Linked DNA regions of Homo sapiens: regions 1, 2, 3 and 5 are each linked to region 4. The links come from fine-mapping of genetic effects on gene expression. A gene starts in region 4. Each other region holds a variant in brackets. All regions are shown on one strand. Distances are between the middles of the regions.

Region 1 (5,102 bases), 42 kb before region 4:
AAGTGCTTCCCTGAATTATGTGAGCTGCTCTAGCAAATTAATTGAATCTGAGAAAGGAGTCCCAGGAGTGGTGATTTGCTGGGTGGGTCAGAAGCACAGGCCACAACCTGAGACTTGCAAATGGCATCTGAAGTCGAGGGAGGGGGACAGCCTTGTGGGACCAAGCTCTCAACCTGTGAGATCTGACTTCGCCTCCAATATTGTCCAAATTGAATTACAGGGCACCCAGCTGCTGTCTTAATGTTAGAGAATCTGGTATTAGAATGTTGTGCTAAATGGCTGAGAGTGGAGAGTAAGAAAAACACTTTATTGGTTTTTTTTTTATAACCCTATTAGAGGTAAACTCCCAAGAACACAAAGCTATGCCCAGGAAACACAGTGAGCACCTCTTCATGCTAGATTCACAACCAGAAATTGCCCAGCAAGTGGTAGATGCCCAAGGGATGAAAATATTGCAGTGCATGCTCTCTGGACAGGGGACCAAGATATGTGAAAAACTGTGTCTAGAAACAGAAAGGCACATTCTACTGTCCAGAGTCTCTGCCACATGGTCGTATGTTATACCACCAATGAAACCCAGTAAAGTCCCCAAATAGAAGTGTGCAGGTGAGAGAATGACATAAGCACAATGTACTATAGTTGGATATTAATATATAACTGATAAACAAAATACCCACTTCATAAAAAAAATCCCTAAATCACACCTGTGTTAAAGATTCAAATTCCAATTACAGATGTCAGAAAAATAACCTTTATAGGAAAACTCTGTATCGAATTTGATATGGCCAAAGCTGTACTCACAGAAAAGTTCATAGACTTCAATAATGTATTGAAGTAAACACTAAGCACTTGATTCAAAAAGCTTAAAAAAGAGCTTCTCAACAAAACAGTGAAACAAACTGGAAGAAGAAACTACTAAAAAGCAAATTAGATGACTTAATCAAAGAATAGAGTAGAACTCCTTATAAACTTCAAGAGCTGATTCTTTGAAAACACAGATTTCAAGGATAACCCTCTTGCAATTCTAATCAACAAAAGGAAAGAAGAAAGGGAGGGAGGGCCAGGCACCCTGGATCATGCCTGTAATCCCAGCACTTTGGGGGGCTCTAGTGAGAACCTGTCTCTATTTCTTTAAAAAAATTATAAAAATTTATTTTAAAAAAGAAAGGGAGGGAGAGAAGAAGGAAGAAAGGAAGGACATGAAAAATACATTGGGCATGAAAAAAGGGAATCTAACTCCAGATATGTAGAAGAAAGTTTAAAACAAACAACTACCTAAATCTGTGGTAAATGATCTGCAAGAACTTTTAATGGTTACTTATATTATCTAGAAAATATAAGTAACCAAAAATAGAGTAAAACTGTTTAGAACCCAAAAAGACCAATAACCATAGTACAAATTAAGTTGAGAGCCAACTAAGCCTCTGGAAAAAATAAAAGAAAGCCCTGGCTGAAATAGTTTCTAAAATGAATTATTTCAAGCCTTTGAGGATAAGATAATTTTATATGATATATAAACTATTTCAACTACACAATTCATATTGAAAAGCCTTCCTATTCATTTTATAAAGCTAAAATAGCATGATTTATAAATGTGACAAATATGTCTCCTAGTAGAAAAGTATGCATAAATTCTTACCTCTGAAAATAGTGAAAAATACCCTCAGCAACATAGCAACACATCAGTAAAATGAACTCAGCAGCATTTTTAAGCACAATAGAGCCTGACCCAGTGGGCTTTATTCCAGGAACAAGAGGATGATTTAGCTCAGAAGAGTTAATAAGTCAACACATTAATAGGTCCAAGGAGGAAAGGCATTTGATGATTTTGCTAGATATAGGAAAGCCTTTGATGAAACTGAATATCCATTCCTGGTGTGCACTCTTGGCAATTAATGTAGGATTCCAGCACACTGTCCTTGATGACGAATACCTATTGGAAATATGGGCCAGTTTCAGACTTAGTAAAACATGAAAAGCCTCCTCATTAAAATGAAGATCAAGCCAAAGACAACTGCTATTATTTAATGTTACTTTGCACCTTTTAGAAAACATAATAAGATAAGAAAACTAAAGATACATTAGAAATAAAGAAGTTGGCTGTTCCTTATGTGTAAGTAATATAATTAATTTCTTGGATTTTCCAGGAAGCCAAACTAAAAATCTGTTCAAACTAGTAAGGTATCAATAATCAATTACCTAACATAAACTTTTAAAAAATCAATAGCTTACTTATCTACCTCCCCTGGGCATATGTGTCTGCCCATAAGTCTGTGTGGAGCTGTTACAGAGATGCTCACACCAGTGGCAGTAGGGGAGGTGTGTCTGTGTGTCTCTGTATGTGTCTGTGTGTCTCTGCATATGTCTGTGTGTCTGTGTTTCTCTGTGTTAGTGTGTCTCTGTTTCTGCGTGTGTGTGCCTGCATGTGTCTATGTGTGTCTGTGTCTCTGTATGTGTCTGTGTGTGTGTCTTTGTGTCTCTGTGTCTGTGTGTGTCTCTGTGTCTGTGTGTGTGCATGTGCCTGCATGTGTCTGTGTGTGTGTGCATGTCTGTGTGTGGGGGTCTGTGGGGGGGGGGTCTCTGTGTCTGTGTGTTTCTGTGTGTCTGTGTCTTTGTGTGTGTCTGTGTGTCTGTGTCTCTGTGTCTGTGTCTCTGCATGTGTCTGTGTGTCTCTCTACGTCTGTGTCTCTGCATGTGTCTGTGTCTGTGTGTGTGCCTGCATGTGTCTCTGTGTCTGTGTCTCTGTATGTGTCTGTGTTTGTGTGTCTCTGTGTCTGTGTGCCTGCGTGTCTCTGTGTCTGTGTCTCTGCATGTCTCTGTGTGTCTGTGTGTCTCTGTGTCTGTGTGCACCTATGTGTGTCTCTGTGTGTGGGTGTCTGTGTATG[G/GGT]GTGTGTGTGTGTGTGTGTGTGTGTGTCCACGGATCTCTCAGCTCTCTAAGCTCCACTACCATCCCCCAGGAACACGATGTCCACAGTGGGCCTGCTCTGCCAACCAGCTCAGCTACCCTGAAGCCACTTTTCCTGGTCACCCACCCAAAACACCACACCACTGCCCCCTCAGGCTGGGCACTCTAGGAACATGCCAGTCCCTGTTTTAAGGACATCTGTTGTATGTGGCCCCAGGGAGGTCCCCAGAGAAGTCATACTCAGGTTGGGGCCAGAGTTGAAGGCTGAGCCTCCTCACCCACGGGGAGGGGGAGAGAGAGGAGGGCGGCGCTCTGACGCATACTTACCGGCCCAAGGCTGGGCAGGGGTGGCTGGCGGCAGTCACAGTGACATTTGGGAAATGCCAGGGGCTGGGTCCCAGCCCGGAAGGCGGGTGTGGGCGGTGACAGGGGTGGGGGCTGGGTTATTCCCCGAGGCTGAGACCACAAGACACCAGCTTTGCCAACAAAACTCCACTTGGCCAGTGGTGCCAGGGGCCGCAGGGCCAGGGCCCAGCCAGCAGCAGGGGCCAGAAGAAGAAACAGAGGGCCAGGTTCAGTGGCTAATGCCTGTAATCCCAGCACTTTGGGAAGCCAAAGCGGGCAGATCATCTGAGGTCAGGAGTTCGAAACCAGCCTGACCAACATAGAGAAACCCCGTCTCTACTAAAAATACAAAATTAGCCAGGCATGGTGGCACATGCCTGTAATCCCAGCTACTCAGGAGGCTGAGGCAGGAGAATTGCTTGAACCCCAGAGGTGGAGGTTGCAGTGAGATCATGCCATTGCACTCCAGTCTGGGCAACAGGAGCAAAACTCTGTCTCAAAAAAAGAAAAGAAAAGAAAAAAAGAAACAGAGAAGCTGAGGGGATCTTGGCTGCCATCCTCCTCCGAGATCCACGCCATCCATGGGCTCCCACCTGACTGTCCCCGGGTTCCCTCAGGAGCCCCCACGCCTCGTGTCCCATCTGCCTCTGAACTCCCATTGTCCTGGAACCCACAGGGACCCAGGCAGCCCAGAACCCACACAGTGGAGCCCTCATGACCCAGGAACCAGCTCTGACCCCTGACCTCCTGGCTGACCTCAGGCAAGACACAGCCCCTCTGGACCTCAATTTCCCCAGATGTAAAACAAGAAGTAGAGAGCCTGTACAGGCCACTTCCCGCCCTCATCTTTGTTCCTTCCTTTCTTCCTTCCTCCTTCCTTCCAGAACTTGTTCAGTCAAGTCAGCATCCCTTGAGGCCTTTGTGGCCTATGCCACACACTCAGAACGGAACAGCCCATGGACCTTAGTGTCTGTGGGAAGACAGACACAACTCCATGGCATGGCATGATCTCTTCAGGATTGGGGGTCTGTGCCGGGTGTCGTGGAGGCACGGAGGTGGGGAACTAACTCTGTAGGGAGTAGTCAGGGAGGGCTTCATGAAGGAGGTGATTCTGAGATCAGCTTCCAAGGATAACCAGGGGTTTTCCAGTGGGTTAAGGGGGAAAAGGGAGGTTGACATGACAGTTTGGTCTCCTTCCTCTGGTCACTCACCAGCAGTTCCCTGGAGGGCGAGGTCCAAGAGCCCAAAGGTGTGGGAGATGCAGGCAGCTTCCCCTGCACTAAGTCAATCCTCATGCATCCCACCAATGCCAGTGTGAGACTCTCTCCCCCAGGCAGCCCTTCCTGACTGCCTGCCCCCCCGACAGATGGCACTGCTGCAGCCCATGTGTCTGTGAGTATGTGACCCTGGGTTGTGCTGTCCCCAGTGCCCCCTGCATCCTGGCCAGGCCTGGACCCCCAATGCACAGAGGTGGTGGGCTAACATGAGAGGCCATGGCTCTGCTCTCCTTCCCCTGGCCTGTGCCCCGCTGAGGGCTAGAGTCCTCATCCCACCTCTCCTGGGGAAGCTGAAAGAAGGTGGCTCAAGCTAGCAGGCCCAGCAAGATGGGCTTTGGGCCTGGGAAGGCTGGGGCCCAGGGCTGTACTGTCCTGAGCCAGCAGGTGCAGGTGTGGGTAGGGTGGCCAGGAGGCAGGGCAGCAAGGAGCCTGCAGGGTGGAGCAAGCCAGGCTCTGCATGAGCACATGCAGCCTAGACCTCTCCCTGGACTCTAGACTGCCCACACCACTGCCAGGCAACACCTCTGGGGTGGGAAGTGTTGAACTGTCCCTGCTCCCACCTGCTGTGCCTGCCATC
Region 2 (5,102 bases), 27 kb before region 4:
CCCGGAGCTGATCCCTGACCCCACTGTTGTGCCCCTAACTCCCACTCTCCCCCTCCTCCCCTCCCCTCCCCCCCACCTCCATTTCCCCTCAGCCTCTGCCCTCTCCAGACCACAGACACAGTCCTCCTGACCCCGGCTCCTCCTGAGCTGCCTCCCAACCTCTCTTTTCTTCTTACCTACATTTCTAGAAAGAGCAGCTGCATCTGCTATTTTGCAGCCAATTCTGCCTCCTCCCTCCAGTCCCTGCTGTGCTCATCAGAGGCACCAGGCTAACGCACGGCGTGGGTTCCAACCAAGCCCAGGCCTGAACGCACTCATGCCAGGATGCCTAGCTGGCTCCGCTCTCCCCAAACTCAGCTGCTACTCCTCAGGGATCCCACGACACCCAGCCCCATAGAAGTCCCAGGGACCATCCCAGCATGGCCCCAGCACATAGACCACAGAGCTTCTCTGCCTGAATGTCCCAGGACCGCCATGTGATGTCTCCTCTCCCACAGGGAATAGAGCCCTGTCCTGCAGACACTCAGGCACAGGCAAACAGAGACCCAGCCATTGTACCTGTGGGCGGGGATCTGGGCTCAGCACAGCCCACCTGCCCATCAGGGGAGTGGGCCACACAGGCCAAGGCGGCCAGGCCTGACGCAGGTGTGCCTGAGACCCGCCTTCAGGAGGATTAGCCATCATAGATTGAGACCCGCCTTTGGGGGGCGGAGGGAGGGGGGGTGCTGCAGATTGAGACCTGCCTTCAGGAGGGTTTGCCATCACAGAGTAACACCTGCCCCTCAGGAGGGTTAGCCATGTCGACTTAAAGGGGTCTTCAGGGGAGTTAGCCGTGGCTAGTTTATGTGTGCCTACAGGAGGGTTAGCCGCCGCAGATTGAGACCTGCCTTCGGGGGTGTTGTATCGCAGATTGAGACCTGTCTTCAGGAGGGTTAGCCATCGCAGAGTCAGACCTGCCTTCAGCAGGGTTAGCCATCGCAGATTGTCTGGTTTCCTACCCTTGAGCTGCTCAGTGTACTTCACCGAACTGCAGTACTTTAGATAGCTCTACTACTACCGTTTTTGACAGTTTACTTATATTTCATTTAAGTTTAGTGGGGGAAAGCCTGGGTTCCCCAGCCTCCTTGTTCACTGCCCCAGCCCCATGTCCACATACACTCCTGCAACTCTGCAAAGACACCAGGGTGCTGTGAGGGTCCCGTGGGTTTCCCCAGGTCCTCTTTTGGCAGGTCCCTATAACATGTTGCAGGGCAGGGGAGAGGCTGTCTGTGATGGGCAGGGCCCCTGACTGCCATTCGGGCAAGTGGGGATACTGAGGGACCCTGAAAGATATCAGGGTCAGGCTGGTAGGGCATGTGGGCAGCAATGCATCTCAGGGAGTCCTGCCCCCTCTTCCATGGGAAGGGCCCACAGCTGCCATCCCCATGAGCCAGAGAGGATGACACTCTAGGCTGGTGGAAAGGGACCTGATATCAAATGGAAATGAGGCAACCCACGAATACACAAGTCTGCACGTGCTTCTGTGCATGTGTCTGTTCCTAGAGCAGACACAAATGTTCCAGAAGTTTCTTTCTTAGTCATTCACAGAATCACAGGCTCTCGAAGAAGGGGTATTATTCATTCTAATCAGTGGTGCCTGGAATGATGCCCTGTAGTTTCTTTACTTGCCCCAGACACCTGCAGCTCCCTGGAGAGAGCCCCTCAGCTCCTGGCAACTCCATACGTTCTGTGGCAGCTGCAGGGTATTCCACTGGGTAGGTGGGCTGCCACACATGTAAGAGGTCCTCTAGCAAAAGACACCAAGGTGCTTTACAGTCTTTGGCAACGAAAAACACTCCTGCAATGGGCATTATTGATGAAAAGTTTTTATTCAAATGTGTGACCACATATAAAAGATGAACTCCTAATACTTGATGTGCTGGGTCAAAGGTTATGATCATTGTAAGTTTAAAGAGACATCCCAGAAGTGCTTTCAATAGAGTATAGCCAGGTAGTGAAAATGGTGGAGTAAGGACCTCCAAAAACCCTCTCTTCCATAAACGCAACAAGAAAACCAGCAAAAAACAAAAAGGTCAGAATCCACATTTTTAGAACTTCCAAAATTAACTAAA[C/A]GCTTGCAGAAATCTTAGGAGGATTTATTCAAAAAACATAACTGAATCTCAGTAAGAATTGCAAATTTTATAGCACTTGAACTTGCCCTAGTCCCATCCCTGACTCTCTATCCCAAGTGCCTTGAAAAGTAGGACCCCACATTCATCATGAAAACCACTGGCGTAGCAGCCCCTGGAGGGAAAACAGCAATGGAACTCTTTCAAAGCTTCATTCTCAGAAAACTGTCATTATTTGACCTGTCCAGTAGTTCCCATGGAGACCCCACTTACAAGGATGTCTGTATTTGACCTGACTCAGAGGTCTCAAGTACAAAAATCATATTCCCCAAGGTTCATTGTCAAAAACAATTACTGGTATTTAATTTCACAAATGCCTGAAGCAGTAGATAACAGTGAAGCAAGCAATAGACTAACCAGAAAGCTTAAAAGGAAAGTTTCAGTAATGACATGATCATAGGGGTTTTGAAAAACTGCAGTGCATTCCTGAGAATCTAGAAGGTCAAGTGCATGCTCAGGGCTGTGCACATGCTCAGAAAAGTACTTGGGAAACCCTAAGCACTCACTTCTGGCTGACTTTGAGTCTCTGTGCAAGCAGGAAGAGAAGACTAAGGCAGAGTTATCAGCTGCTTAGCTGAGAGCTGAAAGCATACCCAAAGACACAGAGCCCCTTAGCGAAGACTGAGAACTTTATTGACTCCAGGCACTTATGAAAATTTCTTTCCAATCATTATTTGACCGCTAAGATAACTGAGCAGAGATTTCAGTGCCACACACAAAAGAATACAGACTTTGCAGAAGTAATCCAGAAATGTCACAAAACAAACAACCATTACTACAATAAACAGCAGCAACAACAAACCCCAAAGAGTGGGGAGAATCTGATTTCCAGAATTGACTTACTAAACAAAAACTTTCAATCAGCTACTTTAAGTATATTTTTTAAAGACTGAAGGAATTGATGTTTAAAGAACTAAAGGAAAGTATGGAAGCAATATATCAAACAGAGAATATCAATAAAGGAATACAAATTATAAAAAAGAACCAAGCAGAAATTCTGGTGTTGAAAACTAAGTAAATGAAATGAAACATAGCAAGAGGGGCTCAACAACAGGTTTGAACAGAGAGAAGAAAGAATCAGTGACTTGAAAAAACGTCCATTGAGATTATCCAGTCTGAGGCACAGAAAGAAAAAAGAAAGGAACAAATAAATAGAGCCACAGACACCATAATGGACACTATCATATGTATAAGAAGAGTCTCAGAAAAAGAGGAGAGTGAGAAATAAGGCAGAAAAAAAATATTAGAAGCAATAATGGCTAAAATTTTCTAAGTTAGATGAAAATATTCATCTCCATATCCTAAAAGTTCAACAAACTCCAGGTAGATTTCTTATCAGGAACCATGAAGGGCAGGAAGCAGTTGAGCTGACACGTTCAAAATACTGAAAGAAAAGAGGTGTCAACCATGAATTCTTTATGCAGCAAAATTGTCATTCAAATATGAAAGGGAAATTACCTGACAAATAAAATAGAGAACTCGTCAGAAGAAGACCTGCCTTATAAGAACTACTAAAGAGAGTCCTTCAGGCTGAAATAGTAGGACAATAAGCAGCAACTTGAAATCATGTGAAAAAATAAAGAGGACCATTAAAGGTAACTTTACTGGTTTTATATTTATTGCTATATATTAGTAAATATAAAAGATAGTATAAACACATTTTATGCACTTAACTCTATTTTTCTCCTATTTGAATTAAAAGACAACTGGTCTATGACCATACTACCCTGAATGTGCCTGAATTAAAAGACAACTGCATGAAACAATAATTATAAGTATAGATTGATGAGCACACAAGGTATAAAAATGTAAATTTTATGGCAGTAACAGCACAAAGGAGAGGAGAGGCAACAGAACTACAGAGGAGCAAAGTTTTTGAATACTGTTGCAATTGAGTTTGTATTAATCTGAACATTGACATGTACATATAACATATACATAGTTATTTGTTAAGATATTAATTATAACCCTACAGGCAACAGGTAAGAAAATAACTCAAAAATATACAATAAAGGAAAAGACAGAAATTAAAATGGTACACTAGATAATATCTAAATATCTATTTAACACAAAAGAAGAAAATAATGAAGGAATAAAGGAACAAAAATGGCATAAGACATAAAAAACAAATAGCAAATCCTACCTTATCAGTATTTACATTAAATGTAAATGAATTAAACACTCCAGTTAAGAGTCAGAGATTATCAGAGTTAAAAAAAAAAACATGATCCAACTACATGGCTTTCTAAAATAGACCCACTTTAGAGAGAAGAACACAAATAAGTTGAAAGTGAAAATATGGCCGGATGCAGAGGCTCACGCCTGTAATCCCAGCACTTTGGGAGGCTAAGGTGGGTGGATCACGAGGTCAGGAGATTGAGACCATGCTGGCTAACACAGTGAAACCCCATCTCTACTAAAAATACAAAAAAATTAGCCAGGCATGGTGGTGGGCACCTGTAGTCCCAGCTACTCAGGAGGCTGAGGCAGGAGAATGGCGTGAACCCAGGAGGTGGAGCTTGCAGTGAGCCAAGACTGCGCCACTGCACTCCAGCCTAGACGACAGAACGAGACTCCATCTCAAAAAAATAAATAAATAAGAAAGTGAAAATATGAAAAAAGACATTCCAAGCAAAAAGTAATCAAAAGAGAGCCAGAATGGCTATATTAATATTAGAGAAAATAGACTTTAGGACAAAAATTGTTACTAGAGACAAAGAAGGATATTTTATAATGATTAAAGGGCTAATCAACAAGATATAACAATTACAAACAAATATATACCTAACAACAGAGTCCCAAAATTCAAGAAGCAAAAACTGATAGAATTGAAGGAAGAAATAAGACAATTCAACAAAAATAGTTGGGGAATTCAATAGCCCCACTTTCAATAATGAACAAAAACTCTAGACAGTAGGTCAGTTAAAAAAAAAT
Region 3 (5,102 bases), 91 kb before region 4:
AAAGGTTTGGATATGATTCAGAGATAGGGCTGACAGAGCTTGCTGTTGGATTAGATGTAGGAAATTAGCAAAGGAAAGGAATGGGAGAGCAGAGATTGGGATTCAACTGGAGCCATAGTAGCCATGTGTTGTTTATCAGACATCCAAGGGGAGGTGCCAAATTGCTAGTTGGCTACAGGGATCTGGCATTCTGTGAGAGGCCAAGGCTTGGGTATATAGGTTATGTGTGGATAACTGCATCTCCCACATGCTTAGGAGGCCAGATAAAACAGTGCAAGAAAATATTAACAATAAGGATTATGGACAATTTGAGTTTCCTTCTACTTTCCTTTGTGAAAATGTGTTGCTTTAAAAATCAAACCAATGATTCCTTTTTCCAAGTCTGATAATATTTGAAGAATTTTTAGAGAAACTAAGTTACAAAGTTATAGTACTTATATAATCAGAATTGGCATGGTGTAGAGATGTCAAAGTGGGTGTTTTGCTTTTTAATACTTTGTATCAGGGTTATATTTTAACAAAGAGATAAGAATATTAGAGACAGGAGTGGTGGCTCACACGTGTAATCCGAGCACTTTGGGATGCCGAGGTGGGTGGATCACCAGAGGTCAAGAGTTCGATACCAGCCTGGCCAACATGGTGAAACCCTGTCTCTACTATAAATACCAAAATTAGCCAGGTGTGGTGGCGCACACCTGTAATCCCAGCTGTTCAGCGGACTGAGGCACGGAAATCGCTTGAACCTGGGAGCTGGAGGTTGCAGTGAGCCAAGATTGTGCCACTGCCGTCCAGTCTGGGCAACACAGTGAGACTCTGTCTCAAAATAATAATAATAATAGAGTCTAGTCTTCATTTTGCCACTAAAATTATGTCTCTCTATATATTTATTTATTCAACACGTATTTATTGAAAGCTTGTCATGTGCCTGGCATTGTTCTAGGTGCTAGGAATATAGCAGTGAACAGAATCCACAAGTCCTCCCCTCAGGGAGCTTTACATTCTAGAAGGGGAAGAAGTTCTCCCCCTCAGCTCAAAAAAAAAAAAATTGAAAAGAAAAATGCCAAACTCATCCATCAGCTCCAATCTGAGCTGAGCCCTCAGGGCTGCCTGGTTCATTATGTGTTTTCCTGTTGATTCTCCTATTCTGTACAGCAGCAATTTCAGACTGTGCCCACTCTTCTCAAAATTTGTCACCTCTGCAGACCTTGATATTCCTGCTATCTGCAGGAATTTCTGTGTAGGTGCCTTACAGATCACTCAGATTCATTATGGCCAGAACCAACTCCATGTTGTTCCTCTCTGGGCTGGCCCTTCCCCTGGGCTTCATCTTAGGGATAGCACCATTACATACCCACTGTTCAGGACGGAAGCCTGCTGTCATCTTGGTTGATCCTTCTCCTTCACTCCCCACTCCTGCCCATTCAATCACTTGCTGACTTCTGTGAAGTCTCTGACCTAAATCTTTTCCACATTCCACATCCATACACTCTTTTGCTTTTGGTACATACCACAGTAGCACACACTAGACTAGCAGCTTCCCATCCCTAGTTATAGCTGTTGCCTCTTTTCTTTGTAGCATGTATCACCACCTAAAATGTATATTTATTTATTTACTATTTTCCCACCCAAACAAAGGCGCTTTGATGGCAGGGACTTTGTCACCTCTGTTTATTGCTAAGCCTCAGTTACTAGAACCATATCCAAAAGATTAAACACTTGTTGAAAGTATGAATAAAATAAAAGGTTTATCAGGCTTCAACTTGTAAGCAGAAGTGATTCCAAGGACTCAGTGTCATCAATGCCCTGGTTTTATATTTCTTTCTCTACTTAGACTTAAGTGGTGACAGCCTCATATTAAAGCTGGTTTCTCGCATGGTAGAAAAGGACTTTGGCAGTTCCAAGCTTCATAGCTGCATCGTGCACTAGAGGTCAACAAATGTTTTCTGTAGAGAGCCAGATAAGAAATGTTTTAATCTTTATAGGCCATACAGTTCTGCTGCAACTACTCAACTCTGCCACTGCACTGTGAAAGCACCCATAGACAATTTGTAAACAGATCAACACAACTACGTTCCACTAAAATTATTTACTAAAGCAGGCAGCAGGCCAGATTTAGCCAGAGGCCATCGTTTGCTGACCCTGCCCTACGACCAAATGTCCTTTCTAGTGAGTCTCTTAGAAGAACGAAGGAGCTTTGTTTTCCAAAGTTCCCAACAACCACCCTGGTTTACCTACTTGGCCTGATTTTTTTTTAAATACCTATTAGTGAGCCAGTAAGTAAGTGAGCCACTATGGTAAGTGGGGTGAGACTGTCTCACTAGTATAGAGACTCATGGCCCACTCCGAATCTACTGGTGACAGCAGCTTCCCTGAATTCATGGGCTGCCCAGGGCCAGGTAATTACCAGAACAAAACTGTACCAATCAGGAAGGGGGTTGGGGGAATGGATACTGGGTAGGCACCAGATAAAGTCTACTGTGTAAGGTTGATCCTGTGTGTTACAATTTGTTTATGCAACTGTTGTCCTAGAATGTAAGCCCCTTGAAGTCAGGCACCACAATGATAATTAGTAACCTCAGCTTGCACCTTGTACAGGCTTTGAGTTCTATTTTTATTTGTTTTGTAAGGATTTAATAACATAAGTGCATGTGATCCTTAATCAGTCACATAAATGACAGGAAAAAAGTATACATTAGAAAATAATTTGTTTCATCGTTGATTAAAACTTCTGCTTCTTATGGAATTAAATTGTTTTCT[GT/G]TTTTTTTTTTTTAACTAAGGTTCACAAAAAGGATTCTGGCTTTTGGCGAGATTTTGGCTTTGGAATGACTTGTCAGTATCGTTCAGATTTCCTGACCATTGGTAAGTATACTTTACATTTAAGGATAGGACTTTATTTACTCCAGACTTAATGGTATTTTGCTAAAAGGTCTCAGATTTGAGTGTTTTCCTACTAAAGTATGAGTGTCTAAGGTTAGCTAAAAAGAGAAACTGGATATACAAAAGGCAAAATAAGTTTATAATTAATGTTTTGAATAGGAAAAAAATGGTCATAAAAATAAAGTATAATATTTACTTGTTCCTTTAAAATCAAAACACCTGTTTTTAAAAATATCTGTTTAACTTGTTACCCATAGTTGCAGGTGTTTAGAGTAGTCTTACAAAAGCTTTCTCTATAACTTTACTGTTGTGCCCATGGGTTGTTACAGCTGGGAGTAATCTTGGTTATCTAGACCAAGGACTTTCACATTTTTTTGAGATGAAACCTCCTTTACTTGTCTAGTGAACTGTTACACAAAATCCCAGTATTTAATACAAATGAAAGAAGACCTGCTCTTTCTAGCGCGTCTTGGAATCACACCTTAGTCATGCATTCCCCTAAGCCTAAAGATGGCCCATGAATAATTTGTTCTAACTATCCTGCATGCTCTGTTGTCCAGGCTGAAGAGCAGTGGCACAATCTTGGCTCACTGCAGCCTCTGCCTCCCAGGCTCAAGCGATCCTCCTACCTCAATCCCCAAGTAGCTGTGACCACAGGCGTGCACCACCACACCCAGTTAATTTTTTTGTTTGTTTTGTAGAGGCGGAGCTTCATTATATTGCCTAGGCTGGTCTTGAACTCCTGGGTTCAAGCAATCTGCCCACCTTGGCCTCCCAAAGTGCTGGGATTGCAGGCGTGAGCCACCATGCCCAGCCCCTAGCTTCAGTCTTACCCAGCAAAATATAAAGTGTCAAAGAATAGTTTAATAAAGCAGGCTGAAACCTGATTCCATGTCTTCTGATTCATTTAGGGCTAGCTACCTTTCTACAGCATAGAAGTCATAGAATATATTTTATATACATTCTAGGTCCATATCACATTCGTTTTTATAACCAGCCTTTTGTTTTGGAAATCCCCCCACCTTGTCTCCTTATCATTGTAACACTTGAATAATGGAAAATCAGGAAATAACAATAAAAGGGGCGTTAAATTAAACTGATGCTCTTTTCCTTGATTTCTTGCTTAGTTAAGCAAGCAGCATTTCACTATTCCTCAAAAATAGATTTGTGTACATTTTTTCAGTATCTTGAATGCTTTGAGTTCCTTATCTCTTTTTTATGACAATTTTATTGAGATATAGTTTACATATCATAAAATTTATTAATTTAAAGTGTACGGTTAACCAGGTCATGTAGCTATCACCACCATCAAATTTAGAGCATTTCACCCCAAAAAGAAATCCCATACCCATTAACAATCACTCCTCACATCCTACCAACCCTCTTTCCCCCCAAACTTAGGCATCTACTGGTCTACTTCCTATAGATTTGCCTCTTCTGGGAATTTAATAGAAAGCAAATTGTACAATATGTGGCCTTTTATGACTGGCTTCTTTCACTCACATAATGTTTTCAAAGTTCATCCATGTTGTGACATGTTAGGTACTTCATTCCTTTTTATAGCCAAAAAATGTTCTATTGTGTGGTTATACCACATTTTGTTTCTCCATTTGTCAGTTTATATGCATTTGAGTTGTTTCTACTTTTTGGCTATTATAAATACTGCTGCTGTGAACATTTGTGTTTAACTTTTTGGGTGGACATAGATTTTCAATTCTCTTGGACATATGCCCAGGACTCTGGCTGGGTCATATGGTAATCCTGTGTTTGACCTTTTGAGAAATTGCCACACCGTTTTCCAAAGTGGCTGCATCATTTTACATTCCCACCAGCAGTGTTTAGGAGTTCCAGTTTCCCCACATCCTCATTAATACATGTTATTATCTTTTTGTTTCTAGTATCACCCATGATAGTGGATGTGGTATTGATTGTGACTCTGATTATAATTTTTCTTATGATTAATGTTGTTGAGCATCTCTTGATGTGTTTATTGGCCATTTGTATATCTTTAGTGAAATGTCTGTTCAGATCCTTTGCCCATTTTAATTGGGTTATGGAGTTTCTTGGGCTTCTTGAATATGTACATTAATGTTTTTCATCAAATTTGGGAAGTTTCAGCCATTATAGTCATCTCTCAGTACCTGCATGGGATTGGATCCAGGATACCATGTGGAACCAAAATCCATGGTCGATCAAGTCCCTTATGTAAATATACATATTTTCA
Region 4 (5,102 bases):
AACACTCATCCTCCCCAGCAGGGAGTGGGCAGGGGAGGGCAGAGGAGCCGGGAGGCAGGCTGGAGTGGGTGGGAGTTACAGGAGGCAGATTGGAAGCTCCAACAGAAAAGCAGCCAGAGTGCCGGACCCAAGCAGATGGCCTCAGGAGAAAAAGGGGGAAGGGGAGGGAGGGTCCGTCAAGGGGCAGCAGGGAGGGGTGGGGGAGAATGCCTTGAGTCTCCTCCCCATCTGCTATCTGCTATGCCCCTGGCACCTACCCCCAGCAGCCCAGCGCCCCTCCCCTGGGGTGGGCCATGCAGAGAAGAGCATCCCTCCACCAGCCCCTCTCCTGAGGACAGTGGGGGGGCCAAACCCCCTGCCCCCATCCCTGCCTTGGCACAGCACCTTCACTTGACCTATTTGACAAATAGGGCTTCTGTGAAACCCACGGTTCTATTGCCAAAAACCAAAGGCCAACCAAAGCTGTCCCATCCTGCCCCTGGCATCATTCTACAGGTGGGGACCGGCGTGCTCAGGGGCTCCTGGCCACACTGTGTCCCAGTGCCCACTCGCTCTCCTCCCTGGCTGGCCCCTCCCACCGCTGGGGGCCACTGTGTGCGTGGCTCTCCCCACCGCAGCCACTGTCCAGCACAAATGCCATTTCTCCCTCCTCCTCCTCCTCCCCTGCCTGCAGTTGCTAAGTTACACCAAAAAACCCCTCTGCTCTGTGTGAACTGTTCCATTTCCACGATTTGCCAGGTGGAAGGGAGCCATCCGGCTGGCAGCTCGAAGATGCCTCCCAGAGAAAAACAAACTCACTGGCTGGCCTTCAGGCCAAGGCACACCTGGGATACCTGCTTGGTTCACAAACCCAGGGGCATGTGCAGGAGGACACAGCTTCTCTACTTCACTAGAGAGCCTGGGGGATCCACACAGCTCATGCCCTTCTCAGGAGCAGGGAGTGTGGGCCTGCTGCACCCGCCTCGCTGGGTCACTACCACCCACAGCCCTAAGGACACACACTGGCTGGAGGGGCAGAGAACCCACCCACGTGTCCCTGGCCATCCAGCCAAGGTCCTCCATGTCCCCCTGCTCCGGATCTCCCCTTCCTGGGCTGGGGTCCTGAGGTTCCAAAGCAAAGTGTCACTGGACATCAGGGTGGAAATGTCCTCAGAGGTCATCAAAACCGTGTCAGTCTACAGATGGGGAAACTGAGTCTCAGAAGCCTGCAGCCTGCCCGTGGTTCACGAATCAAGACCTGTAGCCTTTCGGCTGGAGGCCCCCTAGAGCCGCTTAGAGTCCAGGGCACCGAGGTGGACAGGCTGGGCTGGCAAGACTGCATCCGGAGGGGGCGGGAGAACCCTGGGGGGACAGAGGGAACCAAGGCCTCTGGGAGGCTCCCCTGCACCCAGCCTGACTCCTGTGTTTCAGGATCCTGCGGCCGACGGCCATCGGGGCCCTTCCTGCGCAGGACAGTGGGAGAAGAGTGGCAGTGGTGGGGAGGGTGAACCAGGGAGAAGCTCACTGCTCTGAGCAGGGAGGGAGGGAGCCCCGGCCACCACCAGGTCTCTGCCCCCAGGTGGCTCCCAAGAGGCAGGCAGCGGCCTCTCTGTAAATATCCACCAGGTCCAGCACCCAGAGGCAGCCAGAAATGCAGGGCACAGGAACCTGCCAGCGCGTCCCTCCACACACAGCAGGGGACTCCCGCCCCCACCTCTCACTCACCGACCCTCGGACCAGAACCAGCTGCACCTGCCCCGTTCCTGGGGCCGGCAAGGCCTGGGGCAAAGAGAGCGTGGTCCTTCAAATGACCCTTGCCCAGCAGGGAGAGGGAGACACCTGGCATGGCCCTGGACCTCTCCCCCAAATGCAGAGCTCAAGCCCCAATTCCTCGCCAAACAGCAAGGGCGTGAGATACCACGGCGGGGCCCAGAATGCAGAAGAGCAAATGGAAACTTCCAACTGCGCAGCCCTGAGCTCCTCCGATTCCCCAGCCCCCACCCCCACGCCAGGCCCCGGGCAGCGAACCTGCCCGCAGTGCCCACGCCCGCCCGCCGCGTGCGCTCCTGCCACGCCCGGCCCGGCCCGGCCCGGCCCGCCAGGTGCCCTGAAGGGGCGGAGGGTGCAGGGGGTCCTGGCGCCGTCCAGCCCGGGGCGGAGTTCTCAGCAACTCCGCGCGCCGGGATCCCGGCCGCCCTCCCCGCGCGCGTCCCCCGCCCCGCGCCCGGAGCCCGCGCCCCGGCCCCACGACGGCCGCGCCGGGAGGGACCCCGGGCCCGCGCACGCCGCGCCCTGCCCGCGCCGGCGACCGGAGGGCACGGCCCCAGGCGCGGGCGGGGGCCCCGAGGCACTGAGGGTCCGCGGCCGCTGCCTACCTCGGTCCGGGCCAGCGTCGCTCCCGCGCCGCCCTCGCGCCGCAGTCGGGCCCCGAGCAGCGCGCGGCCGGCGCCGGCGGCGGCTCATGCTCGGCGCCCGGGCCCGCGGCACCCGCCCACCCGCGGCCGCCCCCGCGCTGCGCCAGCTGCGGGCAGAGCAGCTCCCTCCGCAGCCGGCGCCGGGGAGCGCGAGCGAGCGAGCGAACGAGCGAGCGCGGAGCGAGCGCCGAGCGGGCACGGAGCGGGCGCGAGAGCGCGGGGAGCGGGGGAGCGGGCGGGCGCGGGACGCGGAGGGAGGAGGGTGCGGGGCAAAGGTGCAGGGGGAGGTAGGGCGCGGGACGGGGCTCGAGCAGAGGGCACTGGGACAGGGCGGGCGCCGGGAGAGGGCGGCCAGGCTTTCATTTAAAAAGGATAAGGCATCACGCCTGTAATCCCAGCACTTTGGGAGGCCGAGACGGGCGGATCACGAGGTCAGGAGATCGAGACCATCCCGGCTAACACGGTGAAACCCCATCTCTACTAAAAATACAAAAAAAAAAATTAGCCGGGCGTGGTGGCGGGCGCCTGTAGTCCCAGCTACTCGGGAGGCTGAGGGAGGAGAATGGTGTAAACTCGGGAGGTGGAGCTTGCAGTGAGCCGAGATCGCGCCACTGCACTCCAGCCTGGGTAACAGAGTGAGACTCCGTCTCAAAAAAAAAAAAAAAAAAAAAAAAAAAAGGATCAGGCAGCAGACAAGCTAGGAGGCGATGCGGCCACCGCATTTAAAAGGCCCTCTGGGGACTCCCGCAGAGCTGGCAAAATTTTTGTCAGTGGAATCAGACGGTGAAAGCCCTTCTGTGGGCAAGTCCTGGCCCCTTGGGTCACTCCCCTTAACCATCTTAATCGCCCTGTAAGGTCGGTGGTGGATTTGTTCCCATTGGACAGGTTAGTAAACTGATGCACAGGGAGTGCGGTTACCCTGCAGGGTCTCAGAGCCTATAAGTGGCAGAGCAAGGCTCCAAAGCCACCTTGAAAGATTTCAGAACCACTAAAGCAGGACACAGGTCTTCTGGCGTCCACTGGAACTTCCTGTCGCTCTGAAGGGTCACCTTCTCTTGAACGGACACCCTGTGGCCTGACCCCAGGGTGGCCCAGAGTGACTCTTGCAGGCAGTCAGACGAGGGCCAGTGAGAAACAGGTCTGGGGCGACGATGTCCCCAGGTGGAGGGGTCTGTGTGAAAAAATGGGGAGGAGCCCCACAGCACCCCTTGAAGAGGCTGAGGACCTTGCTTACTCACTTAGTCCTTGTGTCTTGAACACCTGTATGCCAGGTGTAAGATGGGGCACTGGGATTCGGCTGTGAATGTCTCTGTCTGGTTGGAGTTTGCATTCTTGTGGGAAGTAGGCAGTGAATAAAAATACACATAAATAGTTCATGTGTCAGATGCTGCAGATCCCACAGAGAGGCCCAGCAGGGAGAGGGAGCCAGCGAAGGGAGGGGGAGGGGAGCTTGTAGGGTGGGGGATTCTTTTTTATTTTTTAAGGGGAGGTGTCACTGTGTGGCCCAGGCTGGAGTGCAGTGGCTATTCACAGGTGCAATCACTATGCTCTACAGCCTGGAACTTCCTGACTCTAGTGAGCCTCCTGCCTCAGCCTCCTGAGTAGCTAGAACTGTAGTTTCTCACCACCACCCTTCCCTGCTGGGTTGGGGATTTTATTTTGGGTGATCAGGGAAATCTTGGCTGAAAGGATCATATCTGAGCTAAGACCTAACTGAGGCAAGCTATGCTGAATCCGAGGAATGAACATTTTCAGCAAAGAGAACAGTACATGCAAAGGCCCTGAGGTGGAGGATGCCTTAGAAGGAGGCCAAGTGGAGATGAGTGAGTGTGGTAGAGAGGAGCCTGCAGGAGCTGCCAGGTGGACCATATCGCGAAGAGCCTGGCCAGCCATCAGCCCTCTGTGGCTTTGACTCAGAGGGAGGTGGAGGGTTTTGCACAAAGTAATATGATCTTACTATTTTTTACAAACAATATTTTATTATGTAAGATTTTAAACGCTTATAATAGTAACGGCTAAAAAGGTATATACAATAAACTCAATGGCCCAACTTCAACAATTATCAATACATGGCCAATTCTGTTTCATCTGTATGCCCACCTACCACTCCCCATATTATTTATTTGTTTACTCATTTTAAGTAAACTTTTATAGCTTTTTTTTTTTTTTGAGACAGGGTCTCATTCTGTCCCCCAGGCTAGAGTGCAGTGGCACAATCATAGCTCATTGTAGCCTCGAACTCCTGGGCTCAAGCAATCCTCCCGCCTCAGCCTCCCAAGGATAATTTTTTGTAAGTATAACATGCATAGACAAAAATCATAAAGTTGTGCTCCATGAATTTTCAATAAGAATACACCCATTCAGTGAGAATATTAATAGCTCTCTGCACCTGGATTTTCACTGTAGAAAGGTTTTTAATGACAGGTTCATTTTCTTTAATATATAGGACCATGTAGATTATTTGCTTCTTCCTATGTAACTTTTGCAAATTGTGTTTTTTATGGATTTTGCCCATTTTCTCTAAATTTTCAGATTTTCTGACATCCTCATATTGTTGTTTATAACATCTTTTATATTATCCCGCAGATGTTTGTAGAATCTGTAGCTATGTCCCACTTGGATTCTGATATTGGGGACCTCTGTGTTTTTCACTCTCTTTTTTTGATCAGTCTTGTTAGGGTTTTGTCAGTTTTATAATTTTTTTTAAAG
Region 5 (5,100 bases), 150 kb before region 4:
CACTTTCCATCAGAGGGGCCCCGCGCTAGCGGCACTCCCTGGGCCCACAGGGCTACTCAGAGGTCTCTGGTGTGACACTGCCATGTGTCCTCACCCAGTTCGGGGCTGGGCCCGTGGGGCAGGGAGCTCTAGGAATGGACAGTGCATCCTGGGTACTAGGGTACCCTGGGTACCACAGGGCACCAGGTGTGCTGTGACCTCAGGTGACCCCAGCCCCGCCCTGCATGGCAGGAACATTGTCACCATTTCTCAGATAAAGACCCAGGAGACCAGCCTGGTTTGTTGGTTTTCCAAACCACCATGCTGCTCAGGGGCTTCCCAGCATGCGTGTGTGGGTGTGTGCGAGAGGGATAGGGAACCCAAACACCGGGAGTGCGCAGCAGGCACTGTGGTCGGCACCAGTAGAGTTGGAGGCTGGGCCTGGGACAGGACAGGTGGGAACAGGGAGCAGGCTGTGTGCAGAGCCCAGCGCCAGGCAGGAACCCTTGCATCTGCGCAGGCCTCTGCCTCCATCAGCATCCCCAGCCTGCACTGGGGCAGGACCCAGGAGGCAAAAAGGCTTGGCGTCCTAGCATCAGGGAGGGGTGCCTCCCAGGGCAGTGTCGCCTGCCTCAGGCACCTCGAGAAGGAGGCACCCACACGAGCAGCAGGAGGCAGAGAGCAAGTGGTTCAAGAGAAAGCTGAGGCTTCAAGGTCTGCGCTCTCCACAGAGCTGCAGCAGTGCTGCCTGAGGCAGGGCTGTGTCCACCCCCTTACTCATTGGGTGGCCGGGCCTGGGGACCCTGCGGCCTCCCACCCCTGGCTCCTGGAAGACCCAAGCTGCCTGACCCGCACGCCCAGGGCCCCCTCTCTCCGCCCCCAGGCCCGCTCCTCCTCATCGTGGAGTACGCCAAATACGGCTCCCTGCGGGGCTTCCTCCGCGAGAGCCGCAAAGTGGGGCCTGGCTACCTGGGCAGTGGAGGCAGCCGCAACTCCAGCTCCCTGGACCACCCGGATGAGCGGGCCCTCACCATGGGCGACCTCATCTCATTTGCCTGGCAGATCTCACAGGGGATGCAGTATCTGGCCGAGATGAAGGTGCGTGCATATGGCTCTGCACCCAGCCAGCCCCGGCCAGGCCACACCCTGACCCACCACGCCCCTGCCACCCACACCCTGGCCTGCCACTCCCCCACCATGCCACACTCTAGCCCACCATGCCCCTGCCATGGCATGCCATGCTATGGCTCACCACGCCCCTGCCATGTCACACCCTGACTCCACCACGCCCCTGCCATGCCACACCCCCGGCCCAGGTCTCACCAGGCCGCTACCCGGGCCACACACCACCCCTCTGCTGGTCACACCAGGCTGAGCCAGTGACCGCTGCTGCCTGGCCATGGCCTGACGACTCGTGCTATTTTTCCTCACAGCTCGTTCATCGGGACTTGGCAGCCAGAAACATCCTGGTAGCTGAGGGGCGGAAGATGAAGATTTCGGATTTCGGCTTGTCCCGAGATGTTTATGAAGAGGATTCCTACGTGAAGAGGAGCCAGGTGCCCAGTCCCGGGGATGAGGCGGGGCTCCCAGGGATCCCAGGTGCACCATGGGGCAGGCAGTGCCCTTGGGAAGCCTAGGAAAGATACCGAAGATTAGTGGAGCTCTAAGCTTTTTATAGCCCTCACCCCAAATCTTTCTGACCCTGGGTCCCCAAGGACCCAATTAGAACTCCGCTCAGCCTCTGCCATGTCCTTCTCCTCCAGGGCCTCCAGGGCACCCCTCCCTGGCAGCATACTGACCCGAGGCCCTTGCCGCACTTTTCAGAGGCCACCTCATGCTGCGGAACTAACAGTCCTCTTCTGCAGAATAAAGGTCACCGTTCTGATATGACCTTAGCTCTTTTCTCAAAGAAGGGTGGGATGAAATTAGCAGGATCGTCATTCTTTGCAAAAAGGAATGAACTGCTTTACAAGTGAGGCTTCTCCCGCACAGGGGCCTTGGACACTGGGCTGGGTGAGTTTAGAGGCATAGGAACCCCCTGGACAGGATCCAGAAACGCAGCCCAGCTTTGTCCAAGTCTATGAAACAGGCAGTGGGCACCCTTGGGGACACCTGGTTCCCTACCATGGTCCTAGTCCCGGGACAACTGCCTTGGCCCTCTTAGTTTTTCTGCCCATGTCAGCCCCTCTCCTGCAGCCTCCCAGTGGCAGCCCAGGCAGGGCAAGTTCAAGGGGCTGCTCAAAGGCCATGCCGCCCAGACGTTCAGAGCAGACCCTGCTCAAA[AAAG/A]AAGAAGAAGAAAAAAAAAAACCACAAAAGGCGACTTCCTATGATTCAGCTTTGCTCTGAGGGGTCTGGAGAAGCCATTTGTGTTGCCAGGGGTTGTGAGCTGTTCCGTTTCTTCTGGGGTTTCCCTTGTGACAGCAGATCTCAGAACTGCTGTGGGGGGAAGTGGTAGGGGCTGGCCCCTGCCCTGTGGAGGGTGTGGACAGAGCCTTCCTGTTGATGCACTGGTCCTCCAGGGAGAGAAGCTGAAGGCATTCTTATACAAGACGTGCAGGCTACACTGTCACACACTGCTGCCAAGACAGCCACACTGCACTAAGGACATAAATCCCTCATGTGTTTAAGTAAAAGAAGTGACAGTAAGATTGTGTTCCAACCCAAGGCACACATTTTAAAAATGGACTTGCACCTTCAGGCTTGTCTGTGGAGAAGCTGTTTCTCAAGTCACCCTGGAAAGGATTTGTTAGGTCAGACCCCAGCACTGATGAGGGATGTAGGGGGCTGGGGGCACTCATTCAGAGATGCTAAAAGCACCCTGCAATACAATAAGAGAGAAAAAACAGCCTCCCCCAAGGCACACAGACAAATCCCTTCCCTCAAGGCTCCTTCAGTGTGGTAGCTGCTGGCAAAGTGCCCAACATGGAAATGCTAGATGTTGGTTTCCCAAACACATTGGCCCTCAGAACCCCAGGGGAGATCTTGCAGGGGGAGTTCCAGGCCCATGCATAGGGAAGCACTGCTCTGCACTACCAGCAGGCCTGTGGCATGTGACAAGCTGGCCCTGTGTGCCTGTGGGTGGGCAGCTGACTCCCGCCAGCATCTCAGCAATCCACAGGAGGTTCAGGCTGGAGCTCCAGCCCCTTCAAAGATGTGTGTGGCCAGTTCTGTGCCCAGGAGTGTCTACAGCACTCCTCTGGTTACTGAAAGCTCAGGGATAGGGCCTGGCCTTCTCCTTTACCCCTCCTTCCTAGAGAGTTAGAGTAACTTCAATGTCTTTATTCCATCTTCTCTTTAGGGTCGGATTCCAGTTAAATGGATGGCAATTGAATCCCTTTTTGATCATATCTACACCACGCAAAGTGATGTGTAAGTGTGGGTGTTGCTCTCTTGGGGTGGAGGTTACAGAAACACCCTTATACATGTAGTGGGGCCACGACGCCCGTCTGTGCAGCTTGGCCAGGGAATTGCACTGGCCCTGAGCACCTGTCTGCAGTGCTAGCCCTCTGCAATGACCCCCTCACTGAGGGGCCTTCATGATGTGTTCGTGAGGCAAATGGCTGGGCCAGGCCGGGCTGCAGTTCTGAAAGCTCCGGTAGAGCATGAGAGCCGAGCAGGTGGCCAGTAACCCAGCCTCCCCCACCCTTGCTAGTCCCATGCCTCCCTCTGGGTCCCTTGGTGACTCAGGCCCAGCCCAGCAGTTACCCTCCTGTGGTCCTGAGTAGGGCTTTGGGCTCAGGCAGAGCACCCAGTGACTTGCCCCCACCCACAAGTGGAGCTTGGGGACTCCACCTGAAGATGGCCTTGTGTGAGTTTATAGATTGGTGTGCCCCAAACTGCTCAAAGGTGGAAGCCAAAATCTCATTCTTCCAGGTCCAATGACAAGAGCTGATCACTTTTAAAACACAGGATTCTTGCCTCTAAAGTGTTCTACAGTCAGCAGAGGTGTGATGTGCCTCTCTTTTTTTGTGGGGGGAGGGGATAGGGTCTCACTCTGTCACCCAGGTTGGAGTGCAGTGGCGCAATCCTGGCTCACTGCAACCTCCACCTCCTGGGTTCAAGCGATTCCTGTGCCTCAGCCTCCTGAGTAGCTGGGATTACAGGCACGTGCTACTTCGCCTGGCTCATTTTTTTGTATTTTTTGGTAGGGACAGGGTTTCACCATGTTGGTCACACTGGTCTTGAATCCTGACCTCAAATGATCCACCCACCTCAGCCTCCCAAAGTGCTGGGATTACAGGCGAGAGCCACCACGCCTGGCCAACATGTGCATCTTAAATACTGTGGGCTGTGAATAAGCAATTGGACAACAGCTTTCCGATTATATAAGCTGACTGTAGGCTAGTTGGAAAAGGCAGAGAAAAGCATAAAGAAGAGACTGAATGTCATTGGACCACACCGCCCAGTGACCTCTGGCTGCCCTCTGGTGTGCTCCGTGGTGTGCACATGTATGCTTTTTATTGCCCTAAATGGGCTCATGCGATGCTGTTTTGTGATATGATTTTGTTCCCATTGCAAAGCGAGTTTTCCTTCACAGTTAAAATGTTTTTCTATAGCTTTTTTTCCTTCTAAGATTTTATGAAATTTTCCAAGCACATAGAAATGGCAAAAGAACTATACAAGGCACTCTGAGTCTGGTGGCCTGCATTCTCACCGCTTTAAGTGTGAGAATCTTAAGAATTATTAAGATTAATTCATGATATTAATTAATGTATCATTAATTCATTAATCATGAATTCATCTTAAGCCTCATGTGTCCCTTGTGCGTGTGGCTGCTCTGATGGGAGTGGCTTGGGCAAGGACTTCAGCTTCATGGAGTAGGGGCCAGGCAGGCAGGCAGCCCTTCCCCACCTTCATGCTACATCCATCTGAGCAGCCAGACCCAGGCTGACATCTGTGAGCATCTGTGCTTGAAGCCGACAGGGTCAGCAGGTGCTTGGTGGTGGGGGTGGATATCTGGGCCCCCCGGAGGGCTCTGTGAGGGCCAGGTGGAGCCACTCACTGGTCCTTTCACTCTCTGCAGATGGTCTTTTGGTGTCCTGCTGTGGGAGATCGTGACCCTAGGGGGAAACCCCTATCCTGGGATTCCTCCTGAGCGGCTCTTCAACCTTCTGAAGACCG

Direction of the effects. Positions count from the first base shown, and alleles are read on the strand shown. Sizes are in standard deviations (SD) of each study's normalised expression. Not every link is listed here.
With allele AAAG in place of A in region 5, the expression in unexposed skin of the gene that starts at base 2,575 in region 4 is lower (moderate effect, 0.45 SD a copy in GTEx).

The links. PIP is the estimated chance that this variant, and not a neighbour inherited with it, causes the effect. A credible set is the group of variants that fine-mapping cannot tell apart.
Region 1: its variant is the best candidate, but not a certain one, in a credible set for the expression of RASGEF1A in monocytes after R848 (Quach 2016, PIP 0.57).
Region 2: its variant is the best candidate, but not a certain one, in a credible set for the expression of RASGEF1A in whole blood (INTERVAL, PIP 0.76).
Region 3: its variant is the best candidate, but not a certain one, in a credible set for the expression of RASGEF1A in whole blood (INTERVAL, PIP 0.54).
Region 5: its variant is the best candidate, but not a certain one, in a credible set for the expression of RASGEF1A in unexposed skin (GTEx, PIP 0.79).

What each region holds. Positions count from the first base shown.
Region 1 is chr10:43,222,691-43,227,792 of GRCh38, forward strand. The region is part of intron 1 of RASGEF1A (RasGEF domain family member 1A); the gene reads right to left. Among named protein-coding and RNA genes, the nearest start is that of RASGEF1A, 42 kb to the right of the region's middle. The variant G/GGT (reference allele first, on the strand shown) is at 2,886.
Region 2 is chr10:43,237,388-43,242,489 of GRCh38, forward strand. The region is part of intron 1 of RASGEF1A (RasGEF domain family member 1A); the gene reads right to left. Among named protein-coding and RNA genes, the nearest start is that of RASGEF1A, 27 kb to the right of the region's middle. The variant C/A (reference allele first, on the strand shown) is at 2,112.
Region 3 is chr10:43,173,173-43,178,274 of GRCh38, forward strand. It overlaps CSGALNACT2 (chondroitin sulfate N-acetylgalactosaminyltransferase 2), which reads left to right. Exons shown (of 8, transcript NM_018590.5): 7 at 2,779-2,860. Among named protein-coding and RNA genes, the nearest start is that of CSGALNACT2, 37 kb to the left of the region's middle. The variant GT/G (reference allele first, on the strand shown) is at 2,758.
Region 4 is chr10:43,264,491-43,269,592 of GRCh38, forward strand. It overlaps RASGEF1A (RasGEF domain family member 1A), which reads right to left and starts at 2,575. Exons shown (of 13, transcript NM_145313.4): 1 at 2,355-2,575. RefSeq lists an enhancer at 1,205-2,080.
Region 5 is chr10:43,118,669-43,123,768 of GRCh38, forward strand. RET (ret proto-oncogene) reads left to right here. Exons shown (of 20, transcript NM_020975.6): 14 at 863-1,077; 15 at 1,413-1,535; 16 at 3,278-3,348; 17 at 5,003-5,100. Among named protein-coding and RNA genes, the nearest start is that of CSGALNACT2-DT, 17 kb to the right of the region's middle. RefSeq lists enhancers at 2,028-2,287, 2,298-2,357, 2,468-2,587, 3,338-3,387. The variant AAAG/A (reference allele first, on the strand shown) is at 2,263.